Linked DNA regions of Homo sapiens: region 1 is linked to region 2. The links come from fine-mapping of genetic effects on gene expression. A gene starts in region 2. The other region holds a variant in brackets. All regions are shown on one strand. Distances are between the middles of the regions. Region 1 overlaps PAPLN (papilin, proteoglycan like sulfated glycoprotein). Region 2 holds the start of PAPLN (papilin, proteoglycan like sulfated glycoprotein).

Evidence for each region.
Region 1: its variant is fine-mapped to the expression of PAPLN in whole blood (TOPMed, PIP 0.99).

Annotation. Positions count from the first base shown.
Region 1 is chr14:73,267,324-73,282,174 of GRCh38, reverse strand. It overlaps PAPLN (papilin, proteoglycan like sulfated glycoprotein), which reads right to left. Exons shown (of 27, transcript NM_001365906.3): 26 at 13,452-13,618; 27 at 7,552-9,680. The coding sequence ends at 9,511. It overlaps NUMB (NUMB endocytic adaptor protein), which reads left to right. Exons shown (of 13, transcript NM_001005743.2): 12 at 2,751-2,894; 13 at 4,882-6,959. The coding sequence ends at 5,597. Among named protein-coding and RNA genes, the nearest start is that of PAPLN-AS1, 29 kb to the right of the region's middle. RefSeq lists an enhancer at 5,147-5,647. The variant AAAGCC/C (reference allele first, on the strand shown) is at 10,302.
Region 2 is chr14:73,225,884-73,240,595 of GRCh38, reverse strand. PAPLN (papilin, proteoglycan like sulfated glycoprotein) reads right to left here and starts at 3,090. Exons shown (of 27, transcript NM_001365906.3): 1 at 3,004-3,090; 2 at 764-823. The coding sequence starts at 817. RefSeq lists enhancers at 2,529-3,099, 3,673-4,244, 4,245-4,817, 8,618-8,687, 12,640-13,535 and a silencer at 4,161-4,455.

The DNA of each region.
Region 1 (14,851 bases), 42 kb before region 2:
CTAAGATGTCTGTGTTTGTCATTCTGCATGTGCCCATCTTTCACCCCATTCTATAAGGAATTTCTGTAGTCCCAACCTACTGCCTTATTTCCCACTTGACTGTTAAGGATCAGCATACCCATCCAGTTTCCCAAAAGCAGTAGTCATCAGAATTGGTTCAAAGGTTATGCTTTCTTTAGTGTAGTGGTTCTCAACTGGGGCAAAGTTTGTCTTTCACTGTCTGGAGACATTTTGGGGCTTTACAAGTTGGGGGTTGGGGGTGTTACTGGCTTGTGGTTAGATGCCAAGAATGCCACTAAACATCCTTCAGTGTAGACGACAGCACCCACAACAAAGGATTATCCAGCCCAAAATGTCAGTGGTGCCAATGTTGAGAAGCCCTGGACTCACCTAGTCTCTGCCCTGTCAAAGAGGCTAATAAAGAAAAAGGCACTCCTTTGAGCTCTTTAGTTCATCTTCTATAACAAGTGTCTTAAAATTTGCCTTTGTGGCATTGAAGAGTTAAAAGTTGTTTTCAGAGATACTGACTAAATAGTGGATATTGACTCAGAGGTCAGCAAAGAATTTATGTAACTTAAGTTACAGACTTGTAGAATTTGAGCTGCTATAATTGCTGTTTCTCCATTTCTTTTGAAAGAGAGCTCAGCGGAAGTTTTACTCCAGAGATAGTGCCCTGCTTCTACTGGAAGAACTACACACTTTTTCTCCAAGGGTCTTTTTCTTTTTCTTTTTAATAAACCTTCATAGTCATGTGTACCAAATGACTTTTCATGTCATCTAACAAACATTTATAATACCGGTAATAATAGGCACCATTTATTGAGCACTTACACATTGCTTGCCACATTGTGGTAGGTATTCATGCATTATTTCATTTAATCCCCACAACAAGCCTGTGAGGTAGGTGTTACAGATGAAAAAAAAAAAAGAGGCTCAGAGAGGATAAGTAAATTGCCCAAATCTTACAGACAGGATTTAAACTCAGGTCCTCCTGAATATAGTACCCGTTACATTCTGCTGATTCTGCCAGCCTACAAGGCACTAAGTGTGCAAAATTGAATATTTCAGTTTCCTTTCCCTGCCTTTAGAGGGCTCCCAGTTTCTAGGTGAAAAAAAAAATTTTTTTGCCACCAAAAAAGCAAAGGCAGTCTTTTAGACAAACTCTAGGTAAACAGTACCAACACCGGCTGGGTGCGGTGGCTCACATCTGTAATCCCAACAGGGAGGCTGAGGCAGGCGGATCACCAGAGGTCAGGAGTTCGAGACCAGCCTAGCCAACATGGTGAAACCTCGTCTCTACTAAAAATACAAAAGTTAGCCGGGCATGGTGGCAGGCACCTATAATCTCAGCTACTCGGGAGGCTGAGGCAGGAGAATTGCTTGAACCTGGGAGCCGGAGGTTGCAGTGAGCCGAGATCACACCATTGCACTCCAGCCTGGGTGACAAGAGCGAGACCCCATCTCAAAAAAAAAAAAAAAAAAAAAAAATAGTACCAACACCATAGGCATGGCTGTCCAGTCCTAAAAAGGATATAATTATATTGTAGGTCAGGGGAGGGTGCTTGTCTACACCAAACTGAATGTTATTGAGAGCTGGGCTAAGGAGAAGAAACTAATATAGGTATCTGGAGTAAAAGGAACAAGGGTTAGCAGATTTTAACAAGGGGAGATGAGGAAAGAATAGTAGGTATGTTGTGATATTGTAAACATCATAGAGGGGGAAAAAAATCTTTGTTAAAAAATGTTCTGTGAGTTACCAGGAGAGTTAAAAAAAAAAAACCTTCAAAAAAAGTTGAAATTAATTGTGTAGCAAATTAGAAATCTATCAAGCAAATGAAAACATACCAACTTCGATTTCTCATCTGTAATAGGGGGATAATACCAGACTCGTAGGGTTTTTGAGATAATTAAATGAAATGATGCATGTAAAATATTAGCTTAATGACTAGCACATAATAACGAATCATATATACATTTTAACTTTTGAGGAGGAAACAAAGAGTAATTTTTTTTTGTTTGAGATGGAGTCTTACTCTGTTGCCCAGGCTGGAGTGCAGTGGTGTGATCTAGGCTCATTGCAACCTCCGCCTCCCGGGTTCAAGTGATTCTCCTGCCTCAGCCTCCCTAGTAGCTAGGTTTACAAGTGCACACTGCCACACCCAGCTAATTTTTGTATTTTTAGTAGAGACGGGGTTTCGCCACGTTGGCCAGGCTGGTCTCGAACTCCTGACCTCAGGTGATCCACCCACCTCGGCCTCCCAAAGTGCTGGGATTACAGGCGTGAGCCACCACACCTGGCCTATTTTTAACCAGTATTATTGTTAACATAATCTGACCTTTTGGAAAAGTGAAGAAGAGGGAAATGCTATACCTACTTCATTATGCCGAAGGCTAAGCTATATCTAGAATAGTTAGATATTTTTTGCTGCTCCTAAGACGCAGCAGCTCTGTTCACCTTAATTTGAAATTGTTTTCGTAGGTTTCATTTCCCCACTCCCCATGCACATATTTTCCTAGAACAGTTATTTGACTTTATCTATACAACCATTTAAAAATTACAATCTCTGATTGCTTCTTTGCCTAATGGTATGTACATCCAATGCAAGATATCATGGTTTTCCCAAACATCAACTCTTCTCTCTTATCCATTCCACCAGTATTGTACATTCACCTGACTGACACAGCTCCAAGGGGTCACTTGTACACCCTGCATGAATTAACTCCATTGATGTTGTCTGCTCCCGTTGTAGCTAATGGCACTGACTCAGCCTTCCATGTGCTTGCTAAGCCAGCCCATACTGCTCTAGCACCCGTAGCAATGCCTGTGCGTGAAACCAACCCTTGGGCCCATGCCCCTGATGCTGCTAACAAGGAAATTGCAGCCACATGTTCGGGTAAGGTGGCCACAGATGGTGTTGAGGATTCTGGGATCAGATAAGTGACCCTGGTTCTAAAACTCAGCCAGTTAGCTGAGTGGGAACTAGGGAGGAATCCTTTCAGGAAAACTATGTTCCCTCCTAGAAATAAGTTGCTTACATAAGAAAGGATGGTGAAGGAGAACAAAAGAGATCAGACTGATAGTCATTAGGACTGTGGAACAGGACTGTGGAACAGAGCCCCACCCATAGAGCTTTTATAAAATACAGATTCCGGCTGGGTGTGTTGGCACATGCCTGTAATCCCAGCACTTTGGGAGGCTGAGGTGGGTGGATCACGAGGTCAGGAGATGGAGACCATCCTGGCCAACATGGTGAAACCATCTCTACTAAAAATACAAAAATTAGCCAGGCGCGGTGGCATGCGCATATAGTCCCAGCTACTCAGGAGGCCGAGGCAGGAGAATCGCTTGAACCTGGGAGACAGAGTTTGCCGTGAGCCAAGATTGCGCCACTGCACTCCAGCCTGGGCAACAGAGCAATACTCTGTCTCAAAAAAAAAAAAAAAAAAAAAAAAGATTCCAGGGCCCCACCTCAGAGAATCCATCACCGGATTTGGTGATGTGCAGACATTCCTGTAGAAAGAGGGGGCCCTGCTCCTACAATAGGAGGCCTACAAAAAGTGCTAGAAAAAGCACTTCATTTTTGCTTTTTTGTACTTTCTAGTTTTGTATAAAAAACATCTATTAATTATAAAACCAAAAAGTTTTTTTTTTTTGGAGGTGGAGTATTGTTCTGTCACCCAGGCTGGAATGCAGTGGCATGATCTTGGCTCACTGCAACCTCCATCTCTCAGGTTCAAGCAACTCTCCTGCCTCAGCCTCCCGAGTAGCTGGGACTACAGGTGCATGCCACCATGCCCAACCAATTTTTGTATTTTTAGTAGAAATGGGGTGTCACCATGTTGGCCAGGCTGTTTTCGAACTCCTGACCTCGTGATCCACCCGCCTTGGCCTCCAAAAGTGCCGGGATTACAGGTGTGAGCCACCACACCCGGCCTCAAAAGGTTTTAACATAGTAATAAAGGCAGTTCACCAAAAAGACAACATATTTCTGGAAGCCAGGCAGAGGCCAGCAAGATATGGCCAGGTCACTGGTTATTTTCTTTTTGCTCTGTTAGAGCAGAAGATGAATTGCCTTGGGCCCTTTAGAGGATGTGCAAGCTAGGTGTTTTTTTTTTTTTTTTTTTTTTTGAGACGGAGTCTCGCTGTGTCACTAGGCTGGAGTATCTTGGTTCACTGCACCCTCTGCCTCTCAGGTTCAAGCAACTCTCTTGCCTCAGCCTCCCGAGTAGCTGGGACTACAGATGCATACCACCACGCCCAGCTAATTTTTGTATTTTTAGTAGAGACGGGGTTTCACCATGTTGGCCAGGATAGTCTCGATCTCTTGACCTCAGGTGATCTGCCCACCTCGGCCTCCCAAAGTGCTGGGATTACAGGCATAAGCCACTGCACGTGGCCTTTTTTTTTTTTTAAGACAGAATTCTCACTGTGTTGCCCAGGCCAGAGTGCAGTGGCACAGTCATAGCTCACTGCAGCCTCCAGCTCTTGGGCTCAAGTAGTCCTCCTGCCTCAGCCTCACAAGTAGCTGGGATTACAGGTGTGAGCTACCACAACCAGCTAGTTTCTGTATTGTGGATGAGCCATAGCAACAGCGAGGGGTTTCTGACATCAGTCAGCTGCCGTGGTTTAATGCATTTGAGCCATATCTAGACAGTGCTTCAGTGTGGCTGACACAGCAGCATGGTCTTGACAAGTTTTCTTCATCCTACCACAAAATCCCAGTTGGTAATAGAGACTTTACTCCTACCTATCAAAACCACAAAATGTCCCATTAGGGGGGGACATGTTGTACATGTTAGGATCATTCAAATAACCAAGATTATAAGGTGAGGAAAGATGCCCCTAACTGATTCTTTTGTCTCTCATCTTGTTGGTTCCAGGGACCGAGTGGGGTCAATCTTCTGGTGCTGCCTCTCCAGGTCTCTTCCAGGCCGGTCATAGACGTACTCCCTCTGAGGCCGACCGATGGTTAGAAGAGGTGTCTAAGAGCGTCCGGGCTCAGCAGCCCCAGGCCTCAGCTGCTCCTCTGCAGCCAGTTCTCCAGCCTCCTCCACCCACTGCCATCTCCCAGCCAGCATCACCTTTCCAAGGGAATGCATTCCTCACCTCTCAGCCTGTGCCAGTGGGTGTGGTCCCAGCCCTGCAACCAGCCTTTGTCCCTGCCCAGTCCTATCCTGTGGCCAATGGAATGCCCTATCCAGCCCCTAATGTGCCTGTGGTGGGCATCACTCCCTCCCAGATGGTGGCCAACGTATTTGGCACTGCAGGCCACCCTCAGGCTGCCCATCCCCATCAGTCACCCAGCCTGGTCAGGCAGCAGACATTCCCTCACTACGAGGCAAGCAGTGCTACCACCAGTCCCTTCTTTAAGCCTCCTGCTCAGCACCTCAACGGTTCTGCAGCTTTCAATGGTGTAGATGATGGCAGGTTGGCCTCAGCAGACAGGCATACAGAGGTTCCTACAGGCACCTGCCCAGTGGATCCTTTTGAAGCCCAGTGGGCTGCATTAGAAAATAAGTCCAAGCAGCGTACTAATCCCTCCCCTACCAACCCTTTCTCCAGTGACTTACAGAAGACGTTTGAAATTGAACTTTAAGCAATCATTATGGCTATGTATCTTGTCCATACCAGACAGGGAGCAGGGGGTAGCGGTCAAAGGAGCAAAACAGACTTTGTCTCCTGATTAGTACTCTTTTCACTAATCCCAAAGGTCCCAAGGAACAAGTCCAGGCCCAGAGTACTGTGAGGGGTGATTTTGAAAGACATGGGAAAAAGCATTCCTAGAGAAAAGCTGCCTTGCAATTAGGCTAAAGAAGTCAAGGAAATGTTGCTTTCTGTACTCCCTCTTCCCTTACCCCCTTACAAATCTCTGGCAACAGAGAGGCAAAGTATCTGAACAAGAATCTATATTCCAAGCACATTTACTGAAATGTAAAACACAACAGGAAGCAAAGCAATCTCCCTTTGTTTTTCAGGCCATTCACCTGCCTCCTGTCAGTAGTGGCCTGTATTAGAGATCAAGAAGAGTGGTTTGTGCTCAGGCTGGGGAACAGAGAGGCACGCTATGCTGCCAGAATTCCCAGGAGGGCATATCAGCAACTGCCCAGCAGAGCTATATTTTGGGGGAGAAGTTGAGCTTCCATTTTGAGTAACAGAATAAATATTATATATATCAAAAGCCAAAATCTTTATTTTTATGCATTTAGAATATTTTAAATAGTTCTCAGATATTAAGAAGTTGTATGAGTTGTAAGTAATCTTGCCAAAGGTAAAGGGGCTAGTTGTAAGAAATTGTACATAAGATTGATTTATCATTGATGCCTACTGAAATAAAAAGAGGAAAGGCTGGAAGCTGCAGACAGGATCCCTAGCTTGTTTTCTGTCAGTCATTCATTGTAAGTAGCACATTGCAACAACAATCATGCTTATGACCAATACAGTCACTAGGTTGTAGTTTTTTTTAAATAAAGGAAAAGCAGTATTGTCCTGGTTTTAAACCTATGATGGAATTCTAATGTCATTATTTTAATGGAATCAATCGAAATATGCTCTATAGAGAATATATCTTTTATATATTGCTGCAGTTTCCTTATGTTAATCCTTTAACACTAAGGTAACATGACATAATCATACCATAGAAGGGAACACAGGTTACCATATTGGTTTGTAATATGGGTCTTGGTGGGTTTTGTTTTATCCTTTAAATTTTGTTCCCATGAGTTTTGTGGGGATGGGGATTCTGGTTTTATTAGCTTTGTGTGTGTCCTCTTCCCCCAAACCCCCTTTTGGTGAGAACATCCCCTTGACAGTTGCAGCCTCTTGACCTCGGATAACAATAAGAGAGCTCATCTCATTTTTACTTTTGAACGTTGGCCTTACAATCAAATGTAAGTTATATATATTTGTACTGATGAAAATTTATAATCTGCTTTAACAAAAATAAATGTTCATGGTAGAAGCTTTTGCCCATGAAGGGCTGTTCTTTCCCCTTTCCTTTATTAGTAAATGAATTTATTTTTCGTTCTTTTGGTCTTACTCTCCATTCTACTGCTGCTGTAAATCCCTAGTTTAGTGACTAGAAAAATACCCTTAAGATTCATATTTTCATTCATACTTTAATCCTGAGTGTATCTCTAAAGTCAGATTCTTGCTGCTCAAAGTGTGGTCTGTAACAGCAGCATGGACTTCACCTAGGAGCTGGTTAGAAATGCAGAATCTCAGCGGGGTGGGGCAGTGCTTCTCAACCTGGGCTATGCAATAGAATCACCTGAGGATATCTTTTTAAAATCCTAACGCCTGGCCTATATTCCAGACCAATTAAATCAAAATTTTAGTGGGGCAGGGGGACCCCCCAGGTTGTGTTTTTTTTTTTTAAGCTCGCAATATGGTAAAGTTGAGAACCACTGGCCTAGAATGAGTTTTACCTCTAATCTTAGCCCACTATTCTGTGACTGGTTCTATTAGAACTAGTTAGCTGCTAGCTAACCTCAAACTTACCTTCTGATGTGTTTATACCAATAGGCCAAAATCTGGTTTAATTAAACTGGGGATTTCAAAAAAGTGGCCTTTATTTTCCAATTTCTATAGCAAAACCAGCCATAAGTGAACATGGATGCTCTTCAATATTTTTCCAGTATTAAATGAAAAAAGACCTCTGCCCCAGCCCACATTTCCTTTGTTGAATGAGTAGAGAAGACTGAGAAGTATCACTCACCCGTGATGTGGTTTGTCCCTTTTCCAGCCAGTGTGTTGGTAATAAAAGTCACCTTTCAGAGCTTTGGTCCCTGTAATGCCCGTCTTTCCTGTGTCCAGGAATAACCTTTGCTACTAGGCAGTCCTCTGAAAGATTTGTAGAAGGTTAAAGTGGAAAGGGACTTGGAAGCTCATAGAATCCATGCCTCTTCTTTTAGCATCAAGGAATTAGAAGTCCTGAGAGATGAAGAATGTTGTCTTCCAACTCAAACCATTTCTGAAGCCATTTCCCTGTTACTGCATTGCCCACAACCCTTCCCCATTGCTATCCTCATCCTGCTAATGCTGTTTTTAATGACTGACAGTCTGATTTGTCTTTGGCAGCAAACATTTTGCTTCACAGATTCCTACTTAAGGAAGAGAGGGGCTCCTCATTGTCACTGTACAGAGCAGGCTGGTCAGCTTTACACAGGTGTCAGATGAACCGTCACAGCCAGATTTGCATGTTGGCCTCAGGAGGGCTTCAAGGTCCAACATCTCGACGTAAGGAGCGTTTCCAGTTCTTTCATGCTCAGATAACAGTGCTAACTGCAGCTGTTTCATCCCAAATCCCTATTTGAGGTCTTAACATCTATTCCATTTTGCCAACAAGGGTTATGCTGTTAACCCTCTGCACCAGATTTAGAGCTGACTGATGCACTGCCTAGAAGGGTGAGAGAGACTAGAGCAATGAACCATCGCTGATTTTAGCACAGAATACTTCCCTGATACAGCAGGACTTGGCATGCCCTTTAGAAAACAAACAGGTGTTAACTTTGAAATCATTACACATCTCCCTGCCCAGCTTTAAATTAAGTGGAACCCTGACAGCTAGCTTTAAAACACATTGATGGGCTGGGCACAGTGGCTCACACCTCTAATCCCAGCATTTTGGGAGGCCGAGGCGGGCGGATTACCTGAGGTCGGGAGTTCAAGACCAGTCTGACCAACATGGAGAAACCCCGTCTCTACTAAAAATACAAAATTAGCCAGGCATGGTGGCACATACCTGTAATCCCAGCTACTCAGGAGGCTGAGGCTGGAGAAGCGCTTGAACCCAGGAGGTGGAGGTTGCAGTGAGCCAAGATCGCACCATTGTACTCCAGCCTGGGCAAGAAGTGCGAAACTCTGTCTCAAAAAAAAAATAAAAAAAATGCATTGATGGCTGGGCGTGGTGGCTCATGCCTGTAATCCCAGCACTTTGGGAGGCTGAGGCGGGCAGATCATCTGAGGTCAGAAGTTCGAGACCAGCCTGGCCAACATGGTGAAACCCCATCTCAACTAAAAATACAAAAATTACCCAGGCATGGTGATAGGCATCTGTAATCCTAGCTACTCAGAAGGCTGACACAGGAGAATCAAGAACCCAGGAGACGGAGGTTGCAGTGAGCTGAGATCGCGCCATTGCCCTCCAGCCTGGGCAACAAGAGTGAAACTCTGTCTCAAAAAACAAACAAACAAATGCATTTAACTATTCCTGTGTAACAAATTATAAAGGGAAGCTGTAAAGTAAAGGTTTTTCTTATCCAAACAGATTGCTCTTCTTGAAAACAGCAGCCTGTGGTTATGTCAGAGATGCAAACACTGCTGAAGGCTACAGAGAGAAGCTGGTAACTGGCTGCCGTTGAGGCTAAACACTGGGTGGGTTTTTGAAAGAGCTAATGTATTCCAGAAGATAACTCCCTTTGCCAGCCAGAGAGAGGAAGCCAAGAGTCCATCTTCCTTTCTCCCTAGCCCTATGAACTATTTTGGACTGGGGCTGGAACTAGCCTTCATCCCTACTGCCAGATGGGCTGAGCGTGAGGCTGGAAACGTGAACAGCTGGCACAGCAGAAGCTGGAGTAATACTCATTGCCACAAAGCTGGGCCTGCAGGATCAAATCACAGTTGGCCAGCTCTGGCTGGTCGACGCAGTCCCTGCCAGGGTCCCTGGGCTGGGCGGTGGGTGCTGCAGAACGACAGGGGAGAGAGAAGGTGGTGAGGAAGCTCTGTGTATGCTGAAAATTCTCACCTGCCATTTCATTTCCTTCAAAGGAACACAGCATTATAACTGCCAGATTGAAAACGAAGTGCACTTACCCTGTAACCTTTTAACCATACGTACAAACTCTATGAGGGATGATGATTTCTACCTGTTTCTTGGCCTCACTTCAACATGCAGTGGTCCTCCCATTATTATTTGTGGCCTCAGCCCACTGAATAGCTCTTCCTAGACTCCCAAATATTTATTGACTGGATAATTAAACATCTCTTGAAGTTAACTCCTTATGTTTGAGACCTGAATTACTAAATGACAACTGTTCTTGCCTCTGGATTGGGAGAGCAGGTAGGATCAGCCCCAAGTAAAATTTTGAGTTAGCAAGAGCTCTTATCTTTTCCCTTTCTCTGCTGGGTTCCTCCAACCATCAAAGTTTTGTCCCTTCAATATCACCAGCTTATCTTAGTCACCTGGGTCCTCATCCTTCCAGTTTTTCACTTTCCCCAGAGGAAGCAATGCATATTAGACAAGGTAATAGGAAAACAGTCCTGTTAACGGTGGCTCTAATACTAACTACACTGAGAACAAAGC[AAAGCC/C]CTTGTTTTCTCTCCCTCTGAATTTACTAGGAACGTCTGTATCTCATAACTCCCTATTAAGTTTCATTCAGCTGGGTGTGGTGGCTCATGCCTGTAATCCCAGCACTTTGGGAGGCCAAGGCGGGCGGATCACGAGGTCAGGAGTTTGAGACCAGCCTGGCCAATATGGTGAAACCCCATCTCTACTAAAAATGCAAAAATTAGCCAGGCATGGTGGCGTGCCCCTGTAGTCCCAGCTACTCGGGAAGCTGAGGCAGAAGAATCGCTTGAACCCAGGAGGCAGAGGTTACAGTGAGCTGAGACCACACCACTGCACTCCAGCCTGGGTGACAGAGCAAGATTCTGTCTTAAAAAAAAAAAAAAAATTTCATTCTACTGCTTCATCTCTCTTCTGGAAGGGGTTCTTAAAACTCAGCTGACTTAGACCAGAGTGGTACCTTCCCTGAAGTCAGACCTCAAGCAGCCAGAGAAAGCTTATCTTTCTCTCTCCCCTTGTTTACTCACAAAATACCACTAAAAGACTGTACCTAGCAGCGAACAACCTTACAAACGTTTGGTATATTGGTATAACCAGACTATTACCTACCTAAATTTATATAGATAACAAAGCCATTAATGCATATTGTTTCTAAAAATCTGTAACTTTGGTATCAACTCTGAGCTGGTACAGCCCAAGACCCATCATAGTGGGAACTCAGCATAGTGATTAAGCACACCAGCTCTGGACCCATACTGCCCGGGCTCAATCCGGGCTCTGCCACTTGCCAGCTGGGTAACTCTGGGCAAGTTGCTTAAGCCCTTTATGCACATTTCTTCATCTGTGAAATGGGACTAATAACAGCAACAGCAACCTACTTCACAGCGATGTTGAGAAGTCCTCCCAGTAGAGCTATGTCCCTTTTACCTCAGCCTGACCACCCCAAGGCCTCCTACCCTGGTGCTAACACTGAAATTCAATGTGCCACCCAACCATGAGTAGGGCAGGGTCAGGCAGCCGCACACCGTATGACCCAACAAAAAATGAACAGGTGAGAGCAGCCAGCAGAGGACCGGAGGAGAGTGGCCAGACTGAGGCCATGTCTGTCCCATCTGGGACACACATCTCAGGCCATTTCAGCGTGGTGACCAGGTATCAGGCAAGTTTCTCATTGTAGTTTGGTTTTCCATGTAATCCCATCTGGAGCTAATCGCAAACATAATGTCTAGGTCCTCTTGACAGTTCTCTCACTGTGAATCTGCATTTTGCTTTGTCACACAGCCTTGATTTGGTTATTATGTAGACAAGGTCAATTTTCTGGACATGATACAGGTGAAAAGTAGTCCCTGGAGTGTGGTGCTTTCGCCAATGTAACTCCATCATTGTGCAGGCAGGCACTTAGTCACCATGTATCTGAGTGTCGCGGCTTTTGTAGCTGGGTGAGCAGGAGGGAATGGAGGGAAGAACGAGTTTTAACGCTCCCGTTCACCGAGCTGCGAGCGGCGGGAACATTTGTCCCTGTAACACCCCCTTGGGGCTCCGCGGTTGCTGGCATCTCCGAGTTTTCGGGCGCCACCATGTTCCCCTTGTCTATACGTTAGCACCCAGTGCGGAAGCCGCCTGTGCCGTGCGCTGAGCGCGGGGCCGCCACGAGTGCGGGATCCGGGTCAGCGGAGCGCAGCCTGCCCGGCCAAGTGGGCGGAGCGAGACGGTGGGCCGAGCGAGGCCCCGGACAGAGGTCAAGGCGGCGGGCTGGCGAAGCGGCAGGAAGGAACCCTGTAACCCTCCCTCCCGCTCGCCGAGCAACAGGTGAGAAAAAAGCCGCTGGACAACATTTCCAGCCACAACATGAGCACCTAGTGATGCCAAGCACTGAGCTGGGCCCTGGGGAGGCGATCTCTAAAGAGATCATAGACAGGAAGCCGACAAGTCAGTCCCACTCACAAAGCAACATTTCAGCCAGACCTTCAACTTCTAGTACTGGCCAGTCTCCACCCTCAGCCTGGCAGCCAGGAAGCAGCCAGGCCTGCCCCTCTGAGTGTAACCGTGCTCCTGGCATGGCGCTGCAGCCCTGATTGTCAGGAATGCCCAGAAGACCAGGCAGGAAGGGCCCTGGCACCTCCGAGCCTGGCATACTCCCCCAAGGTCTGTATCAGGCCTGTGAGAATTGGCAGCTTGGCCCGAGGTACCACTCTGTCTTCAGTCCCTCCGTGAACAAGAACCAAGGACACAAGGAAGCACAGGCTGGGGGACGAGCAAAGCCCTGTCCCCCTTTCCCTCCTGCTTATTTGAACATATCTCTTGTAAGTGTGAACTCTGAACCACAATCTGTTTCATCAGTTCTGATATGCACTTATTTTCACATCTCTCAAGTTGGTTTGCATCCTAATTGATGGTATCAGAATTGTGTCGTTTCACTGGCAGCATTTTTTTCTTGGTACAAAAATAATGCATCTTACAGGCAATTTGGATTTGTTGAAGTATGATAGAGTAGTAGCTAGAGGAGGTAAGGCTACAATATCAAATATCAAATGATGCAAGTAAGATTCCACTTAGGTACAAGTATAGTAATTTCGTGGGGGTAAAAAAAAAAAAACATGGGGAGTCAAAAGACATGGGCTCTAGTCCCAGGTAGGCCACATTTGCGGTGTGACCGGTGGAAACACCACTTACGCTCTCTGCATACCTGTCTCATTTGTAAAATGGTGATGATAATCCCTGCCCTTTCCTTTCTGGGTTATATGGTCAAACGGCCATAAAGTGGCCAGATTTTAGTGGTTTAGAGTGGATTAGAGTGGACAGATTTTAGTGGTCTGCCTTAAGTTTTAAGTTTTATAATGAAATTCCAGTCAGTCATATGTCTCAAAATCGGTGAGTCTGAATGTCCTGCATGCATTAATGTCTATTAAGCTATCTCCAGGGGCCCAGCAGAGCATCATTTCCTTCATCTCCACTACAGCCCTCTCAGGTGGTGGAGCAGCCCCACTGTAGACGGGAGGAAAATGAGGCTCAGGAAGGTAAGCCCCTTGCCCCAAGTCACACTACCAGCAACTGGCAGGGTGAGCCAGGATTCAAACCAGAGTCCCTCAGACTGCAGAGCCAGCCCTTGAGAACCAGTAAATCTACTGGGGAATGTCCTTCCCATCCCCGGATATAGACCTTTCCTACCTGGTGAGACCACCTTCACCTCGGTGCTGCGGCTGACTGCCTGGCTCCCCTGGTAGGCACTGCACGTGTAGGAGCCCTCATCCCTGGCCCGCAAGTTGTAAATGAGCAGCGTGCCATCTGGGGACTGGTGGACACGGTGGCCATCAGCCTGCACAGGTAGCCCGTTCCTGGAGGAGAGAGGACACTGGGAGAGCCATCAAGGGCCTCTGGAGGTCTGGGAGACAGAGGGAAGAGGTAATCAAAGGCCATTCCAGAGCCAACCGTTCCCACCCCTTGAGAGCAAACAGGTGGAGGACAGGGAGAAATCAAGAATGACCAAGGTTTCTAGGTTGGGTTACTGGGTGATGATGGTGCCCCTCCAACCTTGGGAGATCCAAGGCTGGGGTGAATGGCGAGGTTGTTTTCTGCTATTTCAAATTTGGGGTGCCTGTGAGATAGCAGGAGGCCTCAGATTTGAAGTCTGGAGCTCAAGAGTCCAGACCCAGATAGTGTGTCAGCATCGCACTGACGCAGCGAAGTGCATGTCTATGAGGTGGTCCAAGTCACACGGGGAGAAACCAAGGACAGGCCCTGAGGCACAGCAGAAGACAGTAGTTCCTGGAGCAGAGGGAAGGGAGAATTTCAAGAAGGAGCATACGGCAAGCAGAACGACACTACAGGTCACGTAAAGACTGCAAGGTGTCCAGTGGAGTTAGGGAGAGAGGCAGTGACCTTGGCCAGGACAGTGTCCTGGAACAGGGGCTGACATGCGGCCCCACTGCAGGCCCTGAGAAGTGAGTAGGGAGATGAACAGGCAGAGGCAACCAACATGGACAGCTGTAAAGGGGACACTATGTCAGCATAGGGTCTGCAGGGACATAGAGGCTCAATGGAAGGTGGTTGTGAAGAGGGGAGTTCTATGCATGTTTGCTGCTGGAAAGATCCAGGAGAGGCCAACATGGAGAAGCAGGCCTGACAGGCTGATCAGGGGATGGCTGGACTGAGCACACCAGTGGGGACACCTCTAGCGGCTCCCACCGCCTTCCCTGGGCTCAAGGCCACACAAGACACAGATGCCCTCCGCAATCGCGTCACCTCTCCCAGCCAGTGCACAGGCCGGTTCCTATCCTGGTGTCCTTTCTCAAATGCCCACCTTTGGCACTTGCTGCTTCCTCTACCAAGAACATCCTTTGCCATCCTTAGCTATTAAGGTGCAGCCAAAGTCATTTCCTGGCCCTCTTCCTTGACACTCCTCTGTGCACAGACAGCAGTTGCAACAAAACACATCTGGAGCTCCTGGGACACTGGGCCATCTGCCCGGGAGTACTCTGGGGGCTCAGGTGACCCCAGGATCCCCAGAACCTAGCCTAGTCCTGACACATTACAGGGAAGGAGGAGGCAAAAAATGGCTGCTAAATGAA
Region 2 (14,712 bases):
TGGCACACACCTGGAGTCCCAGCTACCTGGGAGGCTGAGGCAGAAGAATCACTTGAACCCAGGAGGTGGAGGTTACAGTGAGCCGAAATCATGCCAGTACACTCCGGCCTGGGTGACAGAGTGAGACTCTGTCTCAAAAATAAATAAATACTTAAAAATTTTAAAAATAAATTTAAATTAATTAAAGTCAAGTAAAATTAAAACTCACCTCACCCACATTTCAAGTGCTCAATGGACCTAGGGGCTACCTATTGGATAGCAGAGAAACAGGACATTTCTGCCATCTCAGAAGGTTCCATAGGACAGCCCTGCCCTAGGTGCTACCCCAAGGGGAATGGAAACGACTGGCACCCCAAACCTCTAGGCCAAAACACCCCAGCTTAGGGAAGCCGTGTTTGGCTCCAGGCAGAAGACAGGTGTCTGGTGGGATGGACCACCCAGCCCTGCACCTTGGCTGCACCCGCCAGGATTGGCGGGGACTTCATGGAGTGCTCCCACCACCTTCTGAAGGAGGGAAGCCCTGGGAAGGTGCCATTCCTACACACTGCGCCCTGCAGCCGGGCGGGCAGTTCTGGGAACCCTGGCCAGCTGGCTTCAAGGGCCCAGCCCTTTCTGAGGGAGCTCAGCGGTGCGGGCTCGCCTCCTCCCAGCCCAGCTTCCCTGACATCGCCCCTTTCCTGGGGACGTTGCCTGCGGGCCCGCGCGTCCCCGCCCCCGACTCCCCTGCAGGTTCCTCCGGGGGCCGGGGCAGGACCGCACTCACCGAGGACCCGGGCGCTGGAGCCAGCAGCAGCGGCACGAGCAGGAGCAGCCGCATCTCAGCCTGCGGGAGACGCATTGGGTTAGAGCGGCCCGGGGCTCCCGCAGCTGTCCTGGGCGCGGGCGAGAGTGTGTGGGCGCGTCTCTCCCTATGGCCCACAGGTGACCAGGAGACCCGCAACAGGACAGCCGGGTGCGCCTCGGTGCACCGCAGAGAACACAGCGTGAGGGCGCCCCGCCGGGCGGCTCAACATGTGAGCAAGAAAGGAATGGCCCATCCGCAACTGGCAGAAGTTCAAGAACAACTTGTTTCAGAGTTCCAGAGGGGAAAAAAAGAGAGAGCAATTAAAAATACTTCTATGTGGTTGAAAAACAAGTTCAGAATCCGAGTAATTAGACTCACTTTTAATTCAGCAAGATTCCTTTTAAAAAAGCTATTACATCAGATGTTTAAAAACTCCTAATATAGGCTTTAAAAAAATCAAGTCTCTGAAGACACTTTGAAAACCCAAATGCTCTAAAAGTGTTAATTGTAGCCCATTTAAAACCCAAGCCAGCATTTCTCTGCACAGGGAAGCTCCATAAGCAGCCTCCATAACCAACGTGTGTATGCAGTGCAGTGTGCGCCGTGCAGTGTGCGTGGTGCAGCGTGTGAGCCCTGAAAGTGCAGTGCAGTGTGCAGTACAGTGTAGTGTGCTCAGGGCAGTGTGCAGTGCAGTGTGTGTGGAGTGTCTGTGGTTTGATGTGTGCATGCATGCAAAGTGCATGTGCAGTGTGCGGGGCGGGTCCATGTGCAGTCTGGTGTGTACTATTTGGTGCAGGTGTCCAGTCGGTATACACGCTGTGCAGTGTGTATGTGTACATACATGTCGCTGTATCGCAGAATGACATAAACAATGTGCGCCCTTCAGTACAAAACATTAAACAAGTACTAGCGTGCAGGTTTGAACTTTAAAATCTGTAATTCTACCAATGTTCTAATTTTTTAAAGATATAAAATGACTTCTGCTTACAAGGATAAAAGACAGCATACAGAAGCCAAGCTCAGCAGAAATGTAACCTGGCATACTGAACAATGTACACACTCGTTAATTTGGCACAGTGAGTCATTGAGTCATTATTTTCGTGGTCAAGTTCGAGATTCCTGGGGTTGGAGGGTGAGGGAAGGGGGTTGCTGCCAGAGCCCTGCCTCTGCTCTGCTGGGGGCAGCTCCCAGAGCAGGAGCCCCCTGCTAGGGCCAGGCTAGGCCTGCTAGGGCGGGCGAGGCTGAGGAAAAGACGGGTGAAAGAAGAATTTTACTTGTAATTACTCAGAACACCACCGCCTCCGCTGCAATTTCACTGAACTCCAAGCCCATATCTGCCATTCCGAAGTCTGAAAAGTTCAGTTTTTTCGGTTCATTTGGTGGCAAACAACCCCTTCAACTCCAAGGCCAGTCCGGGTCTGGTCACGGGGCTACTCCGAGGGCCGTGGAAGCTCGACCTCTCCTGCCGCCCGAGGGCAGGGACCGGGTGGCCCCGGGCACGCAGGGTGGGCGCCCTCAACGTGTTGTTCCCGGGGAACGCGTCTGCCTTGAGCTAGGGCCGAAGGCGGCGACCCTAGGCGCCAGAGGGCGGGAAGGCGGGTGGCCGCCGACCAAGCCTCCCCCTACAGGGTCCCCAGCCGACTCCGGGACCGCCGCAGTCCGCAGACGCCCGTCCCCGTGGCCCCCGCCCACGGCCCCCCTCTGCATCGGTCCAGCCCTGACCAGGCACCCCGCGTCCCCACCCCAGGAACGCGCCGCGCACCCCCGAGGCGGAGAGGCGCGGTTCCCACGGGAGGCCCGGGGTGGCCGCGCAGGTGCCGGCAGCCGCTGGGGCTCCCGGACGCTCCAGGCCCGCGGCCCAGTGGCACCTCCCGGGAGGGGCGCACGGTCTCCAGGGCCTCGCTTGTACCACGCGCCGGGAGCGGCATTCGCCTGAAGGGAAGGTCCGAGCGGGCGGAGGGTGCGCGCCGGGGCCGTCCCGCACCAGCTCCCCGGCTCTCTGCATTTCCTTTCCTCCAGGCCGGGGGGCGCGCGGTGCCGAGCGATGACCCTGCGCCCACCTCCGGAGAGCGAGCCGGGGCGGGGTCTTCTCTGCGGCCCCCACTTTCTCCGACACCCCCGTCGCCGTGAGCCAGGCGAGCAAATTCCTGCAGAAGCCCCGGGGTGCGGGGTCCCCGCCGCTGGGCGCCCGGGGGCTTCCAGTCCCTCCGCCTCCCTACCTGTCTTCGCTGGCGCCGGGAGGCTGCAGCCAGGGCCGCTCCGTCGGTGCCCGCCCAGGCCCAAGCCCGCGAGGTCGGCCGGGCCGCAAGGAACGCCCGCAGGGGTGGGACTTTCTCTCTCCGCCGCTGCCTGGCCTCACCCTCCACCCCGCCCTGTCTCACTTACCCACCTCCAATCCCCGTGGGAGGACAGAGCCCTTCGTAGAGGCCCTCGTGGTGACCGGTGTTGCCCGGGGCCTCCACCCGCTTGGGTCTGTGCCAAGGCTTGGCTCATCCTCCACTCTGGTCACCCCGTCTGTCCTCTCTTGGGTCAGCGCCAGTCACCTCTCCAATCCCATTTCCCCTTGCCCAAGCCTTCTAGCTTTGCCCTATCCGCTCCTCTTCATGCCTATCCTACACACAACACACCTGTGTCCAGCCACCACCTTCTCCACCCCTGGATCCTATTCTTCAGCCGCAACTGAGTTTCTCCGCACACGCTGCTGTTACCCATCTCCCAGCACGTTTTCTCACTCAGAATGCGCTCTCCCAATCCCCTCTACCTCTCAAACCCGTAGTCAGCCCTCAAAACCTTGGTCAAATGTCACTTTCCTTCCTTTCTTCTTTCTTTCCCTCCCTCCCTTCCTCTTTTCTTTCTTTCTACTTTCCTCCCTCACTTTCTTCTTTCTTTCCCTCCCTCCCTTCCTCTTTTCTTTCTTTCTACTTTCCTCCCTCCCTTTCTTCCTCTTTCTTTTCTTTCTTTCTACTTTCCTCCCTCCTTTTCTTTTTTTTTTTTTTAGACGGAGTTTCACTCTTGTTGCCCAGGGTAGAGAGCAATGGCTAGATCTTGGCTCACTGCAACCTCCGCCTCCTGGGTTCAAGCGATTCTCCAGCCTCAGCCTCCCTAGTAGCTGGGATTACAGGCGTCTGTATGATGCCTGGCTAATTTTTGTATTTTTAGTAGAGACAGGTTTTCACCTTGTTGGCCAGACTGGTCTCCAACTCCTGACTTCAGGTGATCCACCCACCTCGGACTCCCAAAGTGCTGGGATTACAGACGTGAGCCACTGCGCCCAGCCTTCTTCTTCTTTTTTTAAATAGAAACAAGGTCTCGCCCAACCTGGTCTCGAACTCCTGAGCTCAAGCAATCTTCCCACCGTGGCCTGCCAAAGTGCCACCGTGCCCAGCATGTCACCTGCTTTTGAAGCCGTCTCCACACCACCCCAGGCCGATGGGGTGCATGTCCTGCTCCCTCGGTTTCTGTCCCTGTTGCTGTGATTTGCTCAGCTGTGAGTCCCGGGGGGCAGGGCCTGCAATGCAGCCCCACCACCTGTGCCAGGGCACTAATTAGCATCAAGGCAGGGGCTCAACGCATGTGATCAACTTCATTTGTTTTCCTGGTTGTCCTTTTTCACAACCAAGACACTCTTTGCCTACCATTCTTTTTTTGAAACTGGAATTCACTCATCTTTAGAAACTGGTCCTGGACACGAGGGAGGTTGGGGGGAAGAAGTTGGGGAGAGGTTGGGGGTGGGGTGGTGGCAAAGGCTGGTCCCCTTCCCCCACGCTGTTCTGCCTTTAGCCCCTTGCTGGCCCTGCCACTTCTCCCTTGGCCTCATTTGGGCAAAGAGAAGTCACCAGCGGGAAGCTCAGCCCCACTTCAGCCCCCTGGCTCCAGCAGCTGCCTGTTTGGACAAAATGCTTATTAGAACATGGCCAGTTTAAATCAGTTTAAATCAGGTGCATTTCTTACCTATCAATGAAGACAGGAGGAGCAGCAGCTGTAGCGGGGCCCCTGGGGAGTTGTGTGAATTCTTAAGCAAAGATAAAGCTTGGCAGAGAAAGGGGAGTGGAATCATGCAGCCTCTCTAAAGAGGAAAAGCGCTTCTTCCATTCAACAAGCCCCACTCCCTGCCCCCACCAGCTGGGACTTTTCTGAGCTTGGTCAAAGGTCCTCTGTTAAGTGGGAGGAAAATGCTTCTCCCGCTGCAGGGTGGGGGAAGCTGAGGCCCAAGGAGCTCACTTTCCTGCTGTGTCCCTGCTTTTCCTATGATCCTTTCTTCTCAGACACCCAGGGCTGTGATTTCTTATGCCTCACGCCAGCTGCAAAGAGGACTCTGAGGTTGGGAGGCAGAACCCACACTCAGTGGTAAGGGACTGTCTTAGACCCACCAGCCAGGCCCTAGCAATTACTGGCTTGGGCAGGAATATTCTCTTTAAGCCTCATTTCTCCTCTGCTTACCTCACAGAGATGTGAACAGAACTGATGCATTAAAATAGGGTGGTTTAGAAAGAAGATTCCAGGAAAAAGTGTAAGACCTTCCTTCCTATTGTCAAGTCCCCTCTGTGCTGGCTCTATGCCACTCAGTGTCTGCACCTGAGACGCCCTCGCATTGGGGGTTTGGGGTAGCCTGGGGCGGAGGCAGACCTGGACTGGAAGGCTGCTCTGCTTCTCACTGTGTGTGTACTTGGGCAGGTCGGGTCACCTCCTTAAGCCACAACTTGCTCACTTGAGACTCATACAGCAGGTGGTAGAGTAGGGAAGTAACTGGTTTCCATAAAATTCCTACTAGATGCAGAATAAAAGTTAGTTCTGATCTGGGCGCAGTGGCTCATGCCTGGAGTCCCAATACTTTGAGAGGCTGAGGAGGGAGGATTGCTTAAGTCTAGGAGTTCAAAACTAGCCAGGGCAACACAGTGAGACCCTCCATCTCTACAATTTTTTTTTTAATTAGCCAGGTATGGTGGCAGTTGCCTGCAGTCCAAGATAGGGGTCCTCAATCCCCAGGCCACGGACCGGTACCTGTCCATGGCCTGTTAGGAACGGGCACACAGCAGGAGGTGAGCAAGCATTACTGCCTGAGCCCCGCCACCTGTCAGGTCAGTGGCAGCATTAGATTCCCACGGGAGCATGAACCCTGTTGTGAACTACTCATGCAAGGGACCTAGGGTGTGCATTCCTTAGGAGACTCTGATGCCTGATGATCTGAACAGGATCAGGCTTTAGACTGGAACAGTTTCTTCCCGAAACCATCCCACCCCGCTCCCAGACCTGAAAAAATTCTCTTCCATAAAACTGGTCCCTGGTGCCAAAAAGGTCGGGTACCACTGGCCAAGCTACTTGGAAGGCTGAGGCAGGAGGATCAATTGAGCCTGGGATGTCGAGGCTGCAGCGAGCTATGATTGCACCACTGCACTCCAGCCCGGGCAGCAGAGCAAGACCCTGTCTCTAAAAAAATTTTTGTTAAATTTCTGTCCTGTGCTCCCGCCATGTGTATCCTCAATTCTCTACATTTTCATATCTCCACAGATTGCAGATCTAAGGATGAGGCTAAGAAAGAAGTGGCCAGATCTCTTTGTGTGGTTGGGTTGGGATGGAAGGCTGGAGAGAAGAGAGAGGGCAAAATGCCAAGAGCCTCGGGGCTCCCAGGATTCACCTCCTCCAGGAAGCCTTCCTGTACATCTGGCTCTGCACTCCCATCGGTGCCGGGCTTTGCCCTAGCACTTTCAAACTACTGCAGTGATGTAGTTGTTTCTCTTTCTCTCTCATAATTGTGAACATTGCAAGGGCAGAGATCCATTTTCATGTTATACCCTGGACCAGAGGTTCATGGTGGCCCTGAAGGTTTGCCTCAAGAGAGGGGCTTTGAGAAGTGTAACTGGTGACCAGCTTCCAGTGGCTGCACTCAGCCCCACACCAGGTTCTGAAGACTCCCCCTGCACCTCCTCCTCCCCGCAATTCATCTTCACAGGCGCTCCCCTGTAGATCTCTCGCACATCTAGTCCCGTCTCAGCCTCTGCTCTCAGAGGGCCTGAACCAACCCTTGCGGTTCTTGGTTGCACATCACAGAAAAGGACTGAGTCAGCTTAAACAGGAGAGTTGCTTAGAAGAGAGGCAATGGGAGATCGCAGATTGACAGGAGGGCTGAAAATCAGGCACATGCTTGGGCTGGACCCCCGACAATGTCCTAGTTGTAGTCCAGGAGCAGTTCCAGTTAGGATCTATGCTGCTCTTCCGCTGGACGCTGAACTCGTGTCACCACCAATTTTAGGCAATGCTGACACATGCCTAGAAAAACCCTGAAGCGTCCTTGTAGACTCACTCCCCACAGGAACATGCCTGTACCCTGATGGCCAGGACCTGAGAAACAAGAATTGGCAGGGTCCCCAGGTGGAAGTTCAGATGGCAGCTGCCCCAGAAAACACATGTCCACCAGGACAGGGTATTTGTTGAACTCCCATTGAACTGAATTTAGAGGATGCTGCTTCCCTCTTCCTTCATTTGGAGGTTGTTCATCCAAATATCTGAGTGCCTACGCTGCGCTAGAAGCTGGGAGAGACCGGCCCAGTGGTGATAACTGTTTAAGCTTCAGCTTGCTGCAGGAGGCAGCACTGCTGTGCAGGTGGATTCTTTCCCATGGCGTTTGGTGTAGATGCTCCCACCATGGCTGTTTTCAAGCTACCAAGGTGACGTCACCAGACGTGGAGTTGGGAAGAGATGCAGTCAGCTCTCCCAGGCGTGGGCTCCAGCTCACTAGGTCTGCTCGGGGAGTTTACACTCTAGTGGGGACTTGCATTCTAGTGCTGTGTGTGTCAGTTTAGACTAAGCTGAGTTTTACAATCAGAGTATTCAAACATTTTTACGATAAAAGTCATAGAACCGATGCCACAGCCCACTAGGAATCCAAAAGGAAAAAAGATACTCCACATCAGAGGCTGCTGCATTTATTTCTCTAACGTCTCCCCACCCCCCAATACATATATTCATTTCCCTTAATACAGTCATTCAAACGCTGGGAACGGCGGGAAGGCGAGGGTCAAAACTCCACTCCGTGCTGTGCTTCCAGACGCCACCTCAACCTTCCTTCCCCCATTGCGTTGCCATATCCAAGTCAGCTCTTTGAAGCACCATGCCAGACCACTGGAGTGGGAATTCAGGGCTCAGTGTGTCTGACAAGTGGCTGTCAGGAGATAAGCCACCTGGCCTTTGGAGGGGAGTTTTACCCTTAAAGCTGAGACAGAAATATATAATAGCTCCTCCCACCCTTCCTGCAGACAAGAAGGCCATCCAGAGGGAAAGAACAGGAATTCCTGGGATGTCCCCTCAGTGACACCAGGCCCACGCTGACTCGGATCCCGGAAAGGGCACCGGGATGCGGGAGAGGCTGTGTGGAGGCAGGACAATGCCTGGGGAAGGAGAGCAGAGACAGTGGGAAAGGAAGGGGCTTTCCAATGCTGTTTCTGACTAGCTCCCAGCCAGCAGCTCCAGCCGGCAGAGATCTCATCCCCTCTGCCCACAGGGGAACACAAACTCCTACCACAGCGACCCCAACCACGGCCTCCTTTGGAGAAGCTGGTTGAGACATTAAGGGAGCTGCTGTGAGGAACCCACCCTCACTTCCCAAAGGGGAGAGCAGCTCCTGGCCCAGACCCCACAAAGGTCGGTGTAAGGTGTGGAACCAGCTCAAGAGCACAGGCCCGGAGCATGTCTCTGGGCCTTGAAGCTCCAGGTGGGCACCCCAGACTCCCAGGCAAGCCTGGTGTCCTGTGGCCGCCTGGTGGCCCCTCGGATGGTTGCAGAAGGCAGCAAGTCCCTGTTCTCTTGTGATGAATCCAGTGAGCCAGGCTCTGAGGTCCCTGGTGCTGTCCCTGGGGGGCTGTCACGGACAGGGGCCCTGGATTGGTAGCCCCAGAGGCCAGCAGTCAAGGCTGTTTAGATCCTTTTGTCTTGGTCTCACCCTCCACCATGCTCCTGGGACACTTCTCATCTACCCTGTGGCTTCAGCCTCTGTACCTGAATGGTTCTCAGCCCAGACATTGAGAGACAGCCTGTGTCTCGGGCCAAAGACCTGGAAACACAACCCAGAAGTCAGTGGGCCAGTGCCTCGCAATCCTAAAACAAGACTTCCCCGAAGCTGAAGGGAGAGGAAATAATTTTTCTTTTCTTTTCTTTTCTTTTTTTTTGCTGCAGTGCTTCTCTAGCTCTCATTTCTGTGGGGACCTGTTATCCTGGACCCCTACTTTATAGTATAATGCCACGGAAAGATGTACAGACACAAAACGGGGTCTAAGCTCTTTATTTTTACAGCTTTCATATCACTGTTAATTCTATATATCTAGGTCCCAATCCCTTATCAGAAACTCTTGAGGCCAAACGTGTTTCAGAATTGAGAATTTTCCAGGCTTTAGAAGTGACTAAACTGCATATTATATAATACTCCCAGCAGGCTGGAAGCCCTCTTTTCACCATCTCGGCTCACTGCAACCTCCGCGTCCTAGGTTCAAGCGATTCTCTTGCCTCAGCCTCCCCAGTAGCTGGGATTACAAGCACACACCACCACACTCAGCTAATTTTTGTATTTTTAGTAGAGATGGGGTTTCACCATGTTGGCCAGATTGGTCTCCAACTCCTGACCTCAGGTGATCTGCCCACCTTGGCCTCCCAAAGTGCTGGGATTATAGGCATGAGCCACCGTGCCTGGCCAGAAGCCCTCTTTTTATGTTTATTTTTTTGAGACGGAGTTTTGCTCTGTTGCCCAGTCTGGAGTGCAATGGTGCGATCTCGGCTCACTGCAAGCTCCACCTCCTGGGTTCAAGCGATTCTCCTGCCTCAGCCTCCCGAGTAGCTGGGACTGCAGGCGCATGCCACCACGCCTGGCTAATTATTTTGTATTTCTAGTAGAGACGGGATTTCACCATGTTAGCCAGGATGGTCTCGATCTCCTGATCTTGTGATCCGCCTGCCTTAGCCTCCCAAAGTGCTGGGATTACAGGCGTGAGCCACCGCGCCCGGCCAGAAGCCCTTTTTAATCAAAACAAATCAACGAGCAAAACCGCCGCACATACACACTCATAGCTCTGCGGCAAAACACACAAATGTCCTCCTAAAGGGCATAAAGTTCAGTCAGGTATTACGGACACATTGATAAGAAACCTTTCAGTTTTCAGAGCTTTGTAAATTTTGCCCATTAAACGCAATATAACGCAGAGCAGATGGGATTCAGATGAGCAGCATTTGTGTGATGTGGTGGGCGGGGTGGCCTACTGGAATCACCTCCTGGTGGTGCCATGAATGTGGTCCAAGCTTGGGGGCAGGAAGTAGGGAGGCACAAAGCCTGGGCAGTCTTGGGTCTACCACTCCTGGCTGTAATATCTCAGGCAAGCCAACCTTCCTGCATGGCAGTTTTCTCATTTTTAAAAGACAATAGATTGATGTAAATAAAAAATAAATACTAAAATTGAAAATTCCCAGGAATCCACCACCCCAAACTCTGAGAACAAAGTGAGGCAGCAGAAAGCTGGAGGTGGCATCCTCTCTGAAGGGGAGTGGCACACACCCGTGTCGACTGGGGCCTCCAGCGCAGGCCTCCAGGCAGCATTGGCACTGAAAGGCAGACTGTGACGGGCTGTCCTGCTCGGCCAGAGTTGGGAGCTGAGGCCTGGCTGGTCAGTGTCTCTCGCACCAGAGCTTGTGACCTTAGCATCACAGGAAGACTGAATAAATAAGGCACAGCTTCTGGGAACATCAACTTTAGGAGTGTGTATGGTGGTGTCATATATTTTTGGTGATGGTTTTTTTTTTTTTTTTTTGAGATGGAGTCTCACTCTTGTCACCCAGGCTGGAGTGCGGTGGCACGATCTCGGCTCACTGCAACCTCCGCCTCCCGGGTTCAAGCAATTCTCCTGCCTCAGCCTCCTGAGTAGCTGGGATTACAGGTGCCTGCCACCATGCCCAGCTAATTTTTGTACTTTTAGTAGATATGGGGTTTCGCCATGTTGGCCAGGCTGGTCTTGAACTCCTGACCTCAGGTGATCTGCCCGCCTTGGCCTCCCAAAGTGCTGGGATTACAGGCGTGAGCCACCATGCCCAGCCGTTTTTTTTTTTTTTTTAACATTAAAACACGTCTACAACAACATGCATGAACCTCAAGGACTTCACGCTAAGTGAAATAAGCCAGTCACAGAAGAATGAATAGTGGGTCGTTCCACTCCTTGTGAGGTTCCTGGAGTAGTCAAATTCACAGAGACAGAGCTGGAATGGGGGTGCTGGAGGCTGGGGCGGGGAGCTGTTTTGTGGTGAGGAAGGAGCTCTGGAGATGGGCGTGTGATAGCTACACATCACTGTGAAGGAACTTAATGTCACCAAATGCACACTCAAAAATGGTTAGGATGGTATATTTTATGTTGTATTTTACCCAGTAAGACAACAAAAAGCATATATTATGAAATAAAACTTTTGGTTTTGGTAAAACTCCAGAGAACTCTCCACCTAAGGCTGCCACCTTGGACTGTGTCCACATCCCTCAGTGTCTCTGTCCTCTGTTGCTTGAGCAGCTTTAGTGAGAAAGTTGAGAAAGGTTGTGAGACTGCGCTACCAAGGCCCACTCAGACGAAGATTCGGTTCATCAGAAATGGGGTCCAGTGCCCCCGTCCTTGACAGTGCTGGAGGCACAGCCTCTCCCACTTACCTGCGGGCAGTGACTCTGGGAGCGCTCCTCCTCCTCTGTAAAATGGGGCTAACAGGCCCTACCCATAGGGTGGGGTGAGGACAGGAGACAATGCCTGTGATGGGCTTGGCATAGTGTCTGTGGCATATTAAGGGACATGCTCAAGGGACATTGGTTTTATGAAGCAGTACCTTCCTCTGTGGCTTTTCTTGGTTAAATGTGGGGTATGTATTAACAACCGCCCTATCCTTTATTCCCCCTGCATCCAATGTGGTGACAATGACCCAGGACAAACCCATACATCTCTCCAGATGTCACAAACGTGAACTGGGGGAGGAATCCTGTTTGTATTCATCCTGACCACCATTTATAAATTCAGGTCTCCTGAAGGGATAAGGCTGGTTGACTTCGGCTCCACACTCTCCAGCACAGCCTTGTAAACAGGGGCAAAAGCTGGTTAATGTTTGTTCTTACTCACAACAATTCCCATGCACATGACCTATTGACATCATTCTGCATGGAAATCCCCTCCCGCAGACCCCGCAGCCACCCCTACAGTCCTTCACTGACTCACCATTTATTGGGCAACTGCCAGGAGTTTAAGAAATGGGACGGCGCCCAAGCTCCCTGGAGGGTCAGGCAGTGGCAAGGTGGCCCCTCGGTCTGTATTTGCCATCCTTAGCTCCTGTCACCGGGCTCGGAGGCATCAGGGTGACCCATCCATTTCCCTTTGCCTGTCCAGGCAGCCAGAGTCTGCAGACAAGGGCGGGGCTCGCTCTGAAAACGACAGGGGCGAGGGAAGACTCGCCAAACCACAGGGAAATGAGAGAATCAGGTCCCCAGCCCCTCCCAGCCCGGGGCAGAATCCTCCAGCAGAGCCATCTGGCAAGGAAGGAGCTTGGAGTGAGAAAAATGCGCTGGAGGTGGGCCCCATCCAGGGAGCGAGGAGCGGAGGGAGGGGCTGCGGGAACATCTGGGTTGGCCAAGTTCCCAGTGGGAAGATGGGGTCAGATTTGTCTTCAGCATTGGGGTGGGCCAGGGGGCCCTCCGCGGAGTGGCAAGGCCTCACCCTCTTTCCCACCGCTATGGAGCACTGCCAGGAAGAGAGAGGGTAAAGGAGCCCATCAGTTGACTGGCAGAGCAGCGGGGCTCCAGGCGGGGTCTTGGTGGCACTCCAACTCTGAGACTTGGAATGGGCCTCCCTTCACAGGAATGTTTACCAAAGTATGTTTTGATTTAAAAACAAAAATCAATTCATGCAATAATTACCAAATGCTTGGAGCACCTTGGCGAACCGTGTTATTACATATCTTTAATGACAAAAGCTGCATAATCACTTATAACATGTCTATGCCTTTATCCATAGTGCAAGAGGGGAAAGAGGGAATTCTGGTCCTTGACAATTGAGAAAACAGAGTCCTCAAAGATGACCTGCCATGTGTGTGGACAGGCAGAGGAGCCGGTCCCTGTCTCCTCCCTCAAGTGGGCTGCACTGGCTCCATCGCCATGGGCCCATCTGACACATGGGGCACCCTGGCTCAGTGGGCAGCACCCTACATCGCCAGTGCAAACAGCCTGTGCCGTCAACAGCACATTAACCCAGGCAGGCTGGCTTCACTTTCAGGTCTGACAGAGGCCAAAGGGCCTAAAATATCCTGAAATTAATTTCTGGATGCCCACAGAAGTAACCTGAGAGCCAGAGAAGGCACATTTACAAAACGTGAAACACTGGCTGGGCACGGTGGCTCACGCCTGTAATCCCAGCACTTTCGGAAGCCAAGGCGAGCAGATCACCTGAGGTCAGGAGTTTGAGACCAGCCTGGCCAACATGGCGAAACCTCGTCTCTACTACAAAAATTAGCTGGGTGTGGTGGCGGGCGCCTGTAATCTCAGCTACTCAGGAGCTGAGGCAGGAGAATCACTTGAGCCCAGGAGGCAGAGGTTGCAGTGAGCCGAGTTTGCGCCACTGCACTCCAGCCTGGACGACAGAGCGAGACTCCATCTCAAAAAAAACACATAAAAATAAAAATAAACAAACAAACAAACAAACTGTGAAGCACTGGCTCAGCTCTCCCAGCCCTGGCCTAGGGGGCAGATATGAAATAAACCAAAGTGAAGGCAGACACCCTTGCAACCGAGCATGGCCTCCAACACCCTCACCGTGTCCTCAGACTGTGCTTGGGCCTGTGCAGGTTCCCCAAGATAAAAAGCCCTTCCCCTTCTGCTGGGATGTTCCAGTCCTCAAGCCTGGTGACATTTTAAACTAGATGACCTTGGAGCTGGGTGATTATAGAGAAGATCCCTGAACTGGGAGCAAGGGGGAAAGGAAAGCTCGGCTAGGAGACACCAAAACAAGGCCTCCCGAGCAGATGTCCCCTGAGGGAGGAGGAGGCATGGAAGCCATTTTCGACATTTCAGAAAATCTGAAGAACTCATACATTCATGTATAAATTTATAAACTATAAATTATAAATTTATAAATCATACATCTAGCCCACATAAGTTAAAACTCAGTTATCTCACTAAATAAGTTTAATACTATTTTATGATATATGTGGGTAAATCTGATTAGTAAACAGAAAAACCAGTTATTACAAGTCATAGGACATTTTTAAAAACCTGAATGCCAGACAAAGTTCCAAATTTCTCTCTTCGGTTTCTCATCGAGCATTTGGAAGAACACTATGTCTCCACCCCTGCATGGAGATGCACTAGCCCTGAAAGCACTCTCTTAAATTCAGGTATTTAAATGTAGTATCATGTTTAGCTCCAGTCTTGCTTCCCCTTTACATCATATGTGTACTCTATCCTTGAGTTTAGTCTACGACCGAGAAAACAAATCACAATCAGACTTTCACCGACAGGTCCACCTTGAGGTATGCTATAGGTTTACTCCATAAGGGTAAGAAAATCCTTTCCTCTTATGCACGAGAAATTGACCTTGGGTTATGTATAGTCTATATCAAATCCTATGCAATTTAAAAAAAAAAAAAAAAGCAGGCCAGGCACGGTGGCTCATGCCTGTAATCCCAGCACTTTGGGAGGCCGAGGCGGGCGGATCACCTGAGGTCAGGAGTTCGAGACGAGTCTGGCCAGCATGGTGAAATCCCATCTCTACTAAAAATATGAAAAAAAAAAAAAAATTAGCAGGGCGTGTTGGCATGTGCCTGTACTCCCAGCTACCCAGAGGGCTGAGGCAGGAGAATCGCTGGAACCCGGGAGGCAGAGGCTACAGTGAGCCGAGATTGCAGCACTCCAGCCTGGGCGACAGAGAAAGACTTCA